2 linked regions of the Homo sapiens genome follow. The protein of the gene in region 1 interacts with the protein of each later gene in a pairwise test. Each region holds a gene or a part of one and is shown on either strand. Other genes may lie near its edges.

Evidence for each region.
Region 2: the proteins of SLC33A2 (region 1) and KRTAP10-6 interact in binary tests that used the Homo sapiens proteins (3 or more experiments, as listed by UniProt).

What each region holds. Positions count from the first base shown.
Region 1 is NC_000008.11:144,507,629-144,511,713, reverse strand, and holds SLC33A2 (major facilitator superfamily domain-containing protein 3), read right to left. Parts: upstream 2,645-4,085; 5' UTR 2,381-2,644; coding exon 1,699-2,380; intron 1,355-1,698; coding exon 1,207-1,354; intron 1,117-1,206; coding exon 992-1,116; intron 921-991; coding exon 811-920; coding exon of another isoform or gene 724-810; coding exon 550-723; 3' UTR 501-549; downstream 1-500. Other genes in the region: RECQL4 (ATP-dependent DNA helicase Q4), read left to right, coding at 1-33, 159-283.
Region 2 is NC_000021.9:44,590,768-44,593,889, forward strand, and holds KRTAP10-6 (keratin-associated protein 10-6), read right to left. Parts: upstream 1,739-3,122; 5' UTR 1,718-1,738; coding exon 620-1,717; 3' UTR 501-619; downstream 1-500. UniProt on the Homo sapiens protein: In the hair cortex, hair keratin intermediate filaments are embedded in an interfilamentous matrix, consisting of hair keratin-associated proteins (KRTAP), which are essential for the formation of a rigid and resistant hair shaft through their extensive disulfide bond cross-linking with abundant cysteine residues of hair keratins.

The DNA of each region.
Region 1 (4,085 bases):
GCAGGGCTGTGGCCCGCATCTTCCACGGCATCGGTGAGGCCTGGGAGGCCCCACCCGCTGCAGGCTGGGGCTGGGGGCTGGGGCAGGTGAGGCCTGGGAGGCTCCACCCGCTGCAGGCTGGGGCTGGGGCTCACGGCTGTGTCTTGGCTCCACCGTAGGAAGCCCCTGCTACCCGGCCCAGGTGTACGGGCAGGACCGACGCTTCTGGAGAAAATACCTGCACCTGAGCTTCCATGCCCTGGTGGGCCTGGCCACGGAAGAGCTCCTGCAGGTGGCCCGCTGACTGCACTGCATTGGGGGATGTCGGGTAGAGCTGGGGTTGTCAGAGGCTAGGGCAGTGACTGAGGACCTGGGCAAAACCTGCCACAGGGTGTGGGAACGAGGAGGCTCCAAAATGCAGAATAAAAAATGCTCACTTTGTTTTTATGGGCCCTCTTGGCCAATGAGGCAACCCCCACAAGCTGGGGACAAGCACATCACATATTCCAGGCACAGAGACATCTGGGCCACAGGCACATGTGGCTTTATTGACCACTCCAGCCACTCAGCTCAGAGAAAGGTGCTGGGTGCTAGGTCCAGGTACAGAACGGGAAAGGCAGAGAGGATGAGCAGGAGCAAGAAGCAGGGATGTGGCCCCAACCCATCAGCCAGGCCTCCGGCCAGAGTGCCCAGCAGCAGCTTCCCCAGCAGCTCCAGCGTGGCCAGAAGGCTGTAGTGTGTGGCCTGAGGGGGGTGGGGGTCACGGTCAAGGTCAGGCCCACACAGCCCCAGCCCCGTGGTCTCTCTTGTGTCCCTGCTACATCTACTCACCTGCAGGGCCCTGGGGGCCAGCTGGCTGCAGCGCATCATCCCAGTGAAGGTGACTGTGGTGACCAGGCCTCCCAAGAAGTGCTGCAGACATAGGCTCAGCAAGGCTGACCCTGGGAGGGCAGAAGTCAGCAGTGCCCCAGGCTCCTGGCCCCTCTCTTCCTCCTCAAGGCCAGCCCCTCACCTCTCAAGATTGTGCCAGCGTCCATGCTGGCCCCCAGGGTGTCCAGGTGGAAGACCAAGGCAGTCTGACAGGCTAGGCCCCCGAGGCGGAAGCGCAGCACCGACCTCAACAGAGGCAGCAGTTTCCTGGGATGGGGGTGGGAAATGGGTCAGTATAGTGGATTGGGGGCAGCTCAGGTACAAGTGGGTGGGCAGGGTACACTGGGGAGGGCTCACCAGTGCTTGGCCAGCAAGGTCCCACCCAGGGAGGAGCCAGCGATGGAGCAGACCACAGCACCCACACCATTCCACAGTCCCAACTCGGGAGCAGAAACGCCGTGGTCCAGCAGGAGAAGAGGAAACAGGCTGCTGGCACCCTGCTCACCTTGGGTGGTGGGGGGGGCATGAGCACGGGAGGTTCCATATCTGCCCCCACCTCCCTTCTCCCCACCTGGGCCCTCAGTCCTGCCCTGCTCTCCTCAGTGTTCCAGAGCTGCAGATACTGGGGGAGAAGTGGGGCAGCCCGAGAGAGCGCTCAGGGATGGGGCTAGAGCTGGGGGCGGACAAGACACAAGGCCCAGCTGCAGAGCCCCGGATGTCAGGGCCAAGTCTTGCAGGTCATACCCCAGAAAGAGCGTGGCCCTGTAATGGGTTGCAAGCCCCTGGGGACACACCTGGAGCTGTCCCGGAAGCCCCAACTGCTGTTGCCTGGCTCGAGGCCTCACTCACCCAGCTTGTAGGTGAGCACAAAGCCTGCCGTCCACACGGTCCCCGGCACGGCTAGCACGTCCCGCAGAAGGTGCGCGGTGTGGGGACGCTGCTCGGAAGGGGGCTGCTGTGGGAGCCGCCGCAGGGCTGGTGCAGCCCAGGCCAGGGCCGCGGCCAGCCAGTAGGTGGCAGCCAGGAGCAGAAAGAGTTGCGGCCACGAGAAGGTGGGCAGCAGCGCCAGCAGCGCGCCCCCAGCTAGCGCGGCCCCCAGCTTGTACGCGACCACCTGCACGGTATTGCCCGGCCCCAGTTCGGCCGGCTCCAGCAGCTGCACAGCCAGCGCGTCCAGGGCCACATCCTGCATGGCGGCACCCAGGTTCAACAACAGCAGCAACCCCGCCACAGCGGCGGGCAGCCCGGCCTGGCCAGCTCCAGGAGGGGGCAGCCCGGCAAGCAGCCCACACACCAGGCCCAGGCCCGCCGTGCTGCGCGTCACCCAGGCCCTCGCCGAGCCCTGCGCGTCCACCAGCGGGGCCCAAGCCAGCTTGAGCAGCCACGGAGCGTACAGAACCTTGGCCAGCCCCACGCGCGTCAGCGAGAGGCCGCCGGCACGCAGCAGCACTGGCAGGAGGCCGGACTGGAGCCCGTAGGGCAGGCCCTGCACCAGGTAGAGGCCGGCCAGCGGCAGCAACTTCCCGCGCATGGCGGCTCAGGCCGGCTGCGAGGCTGGGAGGTCGGGTTCCAGGTGGGGTCCCGCAAGGCGAGGTCCCCTCCGCGTGGGGTCAGAGGCCACACCCCGGCATGGCTTTGGTTCTGGGACCGGGCAGAGTCAGCGTCGTACAGGCTAGGGTCTGGACACGTGCTCTCGGGCTTTAGGAGCATCAACACCCCAGAAGAACCGAAGTCGGGTCCAAACGGGGGCGAGCGGTCCGGACACCGGCGGCCGGCGGCTCCCGGCATGCTCTGCGCGGCCGCAGGGAAGGGGGCGGGGCCACTGCCTCCCGGGGCTCCCACCATGCTCTGCGATACCGCAGGTGAGGGGAGCGGGGCCACTGCCTCCCGCGGCTCCCAGCATGCTCTGCGAGGCCGCAGGTAAAGAGGGCGGGGCCGCTGCCTCCCGGGGCCCTCGGCCCGCGCCCAGCACTGCCGGCCGGGCCGGACTCTCAGCAGTTTCTCGGCCCCCTGGAGCCACAGAGCGGAGCACGGACCACACGGCGTCGCTGGAGCCCCGCGGCCACCGGCTCCAGGGCCGGAAGGTCGCGCGGGCCACAGAGACCGCAACGGGCCAGAGCGTCAGCTCGCGGGCGCCCCCGGTGGCCAGTCCGGGCTCGGGCCCGCGGCCCCCCGCCCCGCCACGTGCGCGCTCCCACCGAGGTCCTGCGCGGGTGAGAGGCCCAGAGGGGGAAGCTACAGAGCTGGGCCGGCCTCGAATGTAAGGATCGGCCTGCGCCCACGGCCAGCCCTGGCCCCTCTCAGTAGTTTCGGATCCGCTCCAGGCGTGCTTCCTTCCTGGTGTCAGCCGAAGCGTGGTTGCTGCAGTGCCCAGCCCCCGCTTCTCCAGCCGCCCGCATGAAGGCGTCCGTTTCTTAAGGGTTCCGCCGTCTACCACTGGATACTTCCGGTGCGGACCCCAACCTTGCTGTGTCTGTGGCTTCAGCTCCTCCGTAAGGCGGTGACAGAGCCATGGAAGTTAGGAGGGAAGTGTGAAAGGTCAGGACCCAGCTTAGCTCAGAAGGACACCGCCAGCCACTGCCCGTGACGCCCTTCGGTGTCCGGTGACAAGGCTAGGAGCACCCTGCCTGATTCGAGCCCGCCCTGCCAAGGGAGGGGCCCACCTGCTGTGTCTCCTGCCCAGAGCTGTGCCCTCTGGGGCTCCCGAGGGCCAGATGAGGCTGTGAAGTGTGTGTGGCCTGTGGTTAAGAACCATCTCCAGAGCGAAAAAAACCAGGTGCCCTTGGCCAGTCCTATCTCCCAAGTTTGTGAGTCTCTAAAGCCAGCCCTGTCCTTGGCGGACTTGAGGGCACTGGACCCAACGCATTTTTCTGGCTGCCGAGGCCTCTGAGGGGGTTTCTTGTCAGCTCAGCAGGTTTTTGGGTTGCAGGTTTCCACGTCTATCAAATGGGGACTATCATGCCTACTTCAGAAGAGCATCTGTGCAGATTGAGTGACCCCCCAGCAGTGTCTGCATGTAGTAGGTGCTCAGCCATGCTCCCCAGGCCAGGACACAGCGCTGCCCACTCCCGCTCAGCCCAGCCCCTGCCTCCTCCAGCCCCAGCCCTCCCCTGGGACGCTCCCTTATCCTCTCCCTCTGCCTCCCACTCCACCCAGCCGAAGGACTGCACCACACAATGACACCAAAGGTGGTCTCTGGCCCCCCAGACAGTGGCCCCACCCCTGCTTCCTTGGGT
Region 2 (3,122 bases), on another chromosome or scaffold:
CCCAGAGTGCTGCCAGGGTCCACTTTGTCCCGAAACTCCTGGCCTTGGTTCCAGAGGCAGCTTTCCTAAGATGGGCCGGGGGGCCATGTGCTGGGGTTGGGGGCCCACGGGGCTAAGAGGGAGACTGGCCTTCAGGGTTCACAGAGGCCAGCACCAGAAGGCATTGCTTCCTGCCTCATCCCATGCCCCTCGGGGGTCCACAGACAGGATGAAAAGTCGACAGAGACAGAGGGGTGGAGCCAGGCCTGCTGGGGGTCAGGACTCTCCCTGCAGTCAGGGGTGGCATCACTTCCCACCTCACCCTGTGCCCCCCGGGGGTCCACAGACAGGACAGAGGTTGGTGTGAGACAGAGGCGGCTTTATTAGAACTAGAGGGGGTGCTGCCCAGGGTGGAACCAGGCCTGCTGGGGGTTAGTTCTGCAGAACTTGGGTCTGGGGGAGTAGCTGGGGTCTCTCATGCAGCCAGCATCTGGGAAGGACAGGGGGAGCATCCTGGTCCCTAAGACAAAGAGCCTGCCCCATCTTCTGAGGGTGTCAAAGCCAGAGAGGGCAGAGCTTGCTGGGGCAGCTGGGAGGTCAGCCCCTGGTGGGAAGGGACTCCGGATCACATCCAGGGCTGTCAGCAGCTGGACTTCTGGCCAGAGCAGAGGCTGTAGCAGGCAGGGCGGGAGCACATGGGGCGGCAGAGGAGGGAAACACAGGAGGCCGTGCGGCAGCAGCTGGGCTGGCAGGAGGAGGCAGAGGCACCACAGGAGGGGACGGGCACGCAGCAGGTGGACTTGCACACAGGGTGGCAGAGGAGGGACACGGAGGAGGAGGATCTGCAGCAGGAGGCGGTGCAGCAAGCCGGCTGGCAGCTAGACTGCTGGCAGCATGATGTGGAAGCCCCAGAGCAGACGGGCACACAGCAGGCGTGCTGGCAGGGGGAGGAGGTGCAGCAAGCTGGCTGGCAGCTAGACTGCTGGCAGCATGAAGAGGAATCCTCAGAGCAGGTGGGCACACAGCACACAGGCACGCAGCAGACGGGCACGCAGCAGGCCTGCTGGCAGGGGGAGGAGGTGCAGCAAGTTGGCTGGCAGCTAGACTGCTGGCAGCATGAGGGTGTGCAGGAGCTGGTGCAGCCTGATTGGCAGGGGCTGGGCTCACAGACCGCCTGGCAGCAGGGGCTGGACACACAGCTCACACAGCTAGACTGCTGGCAGCACGAAGAGGAAATCCCAGAGCAGACAGGCTTGCAGCAGACGGGCACACAGCAGGCCTGCTGGCAGGGGGAGGAGGTGCAGCAAGCTGACTGGCAGCTAGACTGCTGGCAGCATGAAGAATCCCCACAGCAGACGGACACACAGCACACAGGCTTGCAGCAGACAGTCTTGCAGCAGACGGGCACGCAGCAGGCCTGCTGGCAGGGGGAGGAGGCACAGCAAGCCAGCTGGCAGCTAGACTGCTGGCAGCACGAGGGCGTGCAGGAGCTGGTGCAGCCTGATTGGCAGGGGCTGGGCTCACAGGTCACTGGGCAGCAGGGGCTGGACACACGGCTCACTGGGGTGCAGACCAGGCTCAGGCAGGGGGCCGGGGCGCAGCAGGGGGGCTCACAGCAGCTCTCTGGGCAGTCGTCCACCTGCCAGGAGTCGGAGCAAGAGTCACAGGAACCAGGAAGGCAGACGCGGCTGCCGTAGCTCAGGTCGCTGGAGCAGACGGACATGGTGGACGCGGCCATGCTGGGGTTGAACTGGTGGAGGGTGAGGGAGTGAGCCTGTGAGGTGCTGAGGCTCTCGGGCTTTTATTCCACCTGGCCTTGTTGTCCCCGGGCCCACAGCTTCCCCTTCCGTGTTGCCGAGAGCTGGAGTCTGCCGGGATTAGGGGTGTTTGTTCGCCCGTGATGTGGGCCAGCTCATAAATCTCCCATCACATCTGGGCTGTGTCCCATCCCATGTGGATCCCTGGCGGCAGGAATTGGGCGGGGCCTGGTCCCAGCTGGGTTCGGGGAGCTGGGAGAGCCACAGGTCGCGGCATCGTCCACCCCTGGCCCCAGCAGCCCCGGGACACAGAGTCCCTCTGCAGGAAGCCGGCCTCAGGAAGTGTCCTTGTGGTGAAAACCCCTCATCCAGCGTGGTCCTTCCCCCATCACCGGACACAGGACTGTGGCCATCTTCTGAGGGACAACCTGGGGCCCATGAGCCTTCATTGACCTGCCCTGGGCCATGGCATGGTGGGGGTGGGGGGCAGCTGTAACTGTGCCCAGACCTCTTGGCTTTGAGCTCTGGACGACTTCTCATCCCCACAGCCTCTTCACCTCCGGCCCTGTTTCGTGTCCACCTCGTCTTTGTGTTTTGGAGGCAGCAGGACCTGTGTGTTCCAGGGCAAGGACGGTGGGCTTGGCCCCTCCCTGCTTGGACAGCATGACAGCCTTCTGGGCTGTGGTTTTGGGTTCTGAACCTGCAGAGTAACCGTGCTGAGCAGCGGGCGGTCAGCAGCCCTCGTCCCCGCCTGGGGTGGCTCCTCTGTGTGCTCTGCTTCTCCGAGGCTGCCCGTCAGCCCCCACCCAGCCTCCTGCTGGGCCCATTTCCCAGCCCTGTCTTCCAAGCCCTGTGCCAGGCCTCTTAGTGTCACCACCTTAAAATTAAGGGACATCTGTCCAAAGAACCCGCACAGAAGACACAAAATGGGTCCATGAGAAGTTGATCTCACTGCAAACCCATTGCCAGTGTAAACGAAACATAAAATCCTAAGCCCCTCAACTGACTAAATGGATCCCATCTTGCCCACGGGGACCCCCGAAAAACTGCGTTCCTGGCCATGACAGGAAGGGAGGTCAGACACGCCTCGTTACACCCCCTCCCTTTAGGGTTTCGACACAACCACTACCCAGCACTAAAGTTAAAATAGAGACCGTAAGACCCACAGAGCAGACTCTGGCAATAAGATATCAAATTACAAACAGGACCTCAGGCCGCGCCAGGCAAGGGACAAGCCGCGTGCCCTACACTGAGAGGACGGACTCTGCTCTCACGCCACAGCTGCTGTTTTTCTACAGTGGCTAAACACGCACTGGCCCCGCGATGAGGATGAGCAAGGTTCAAACGACTGCAGCTCATCCACCAGCAGATGCCAACTGACCACGT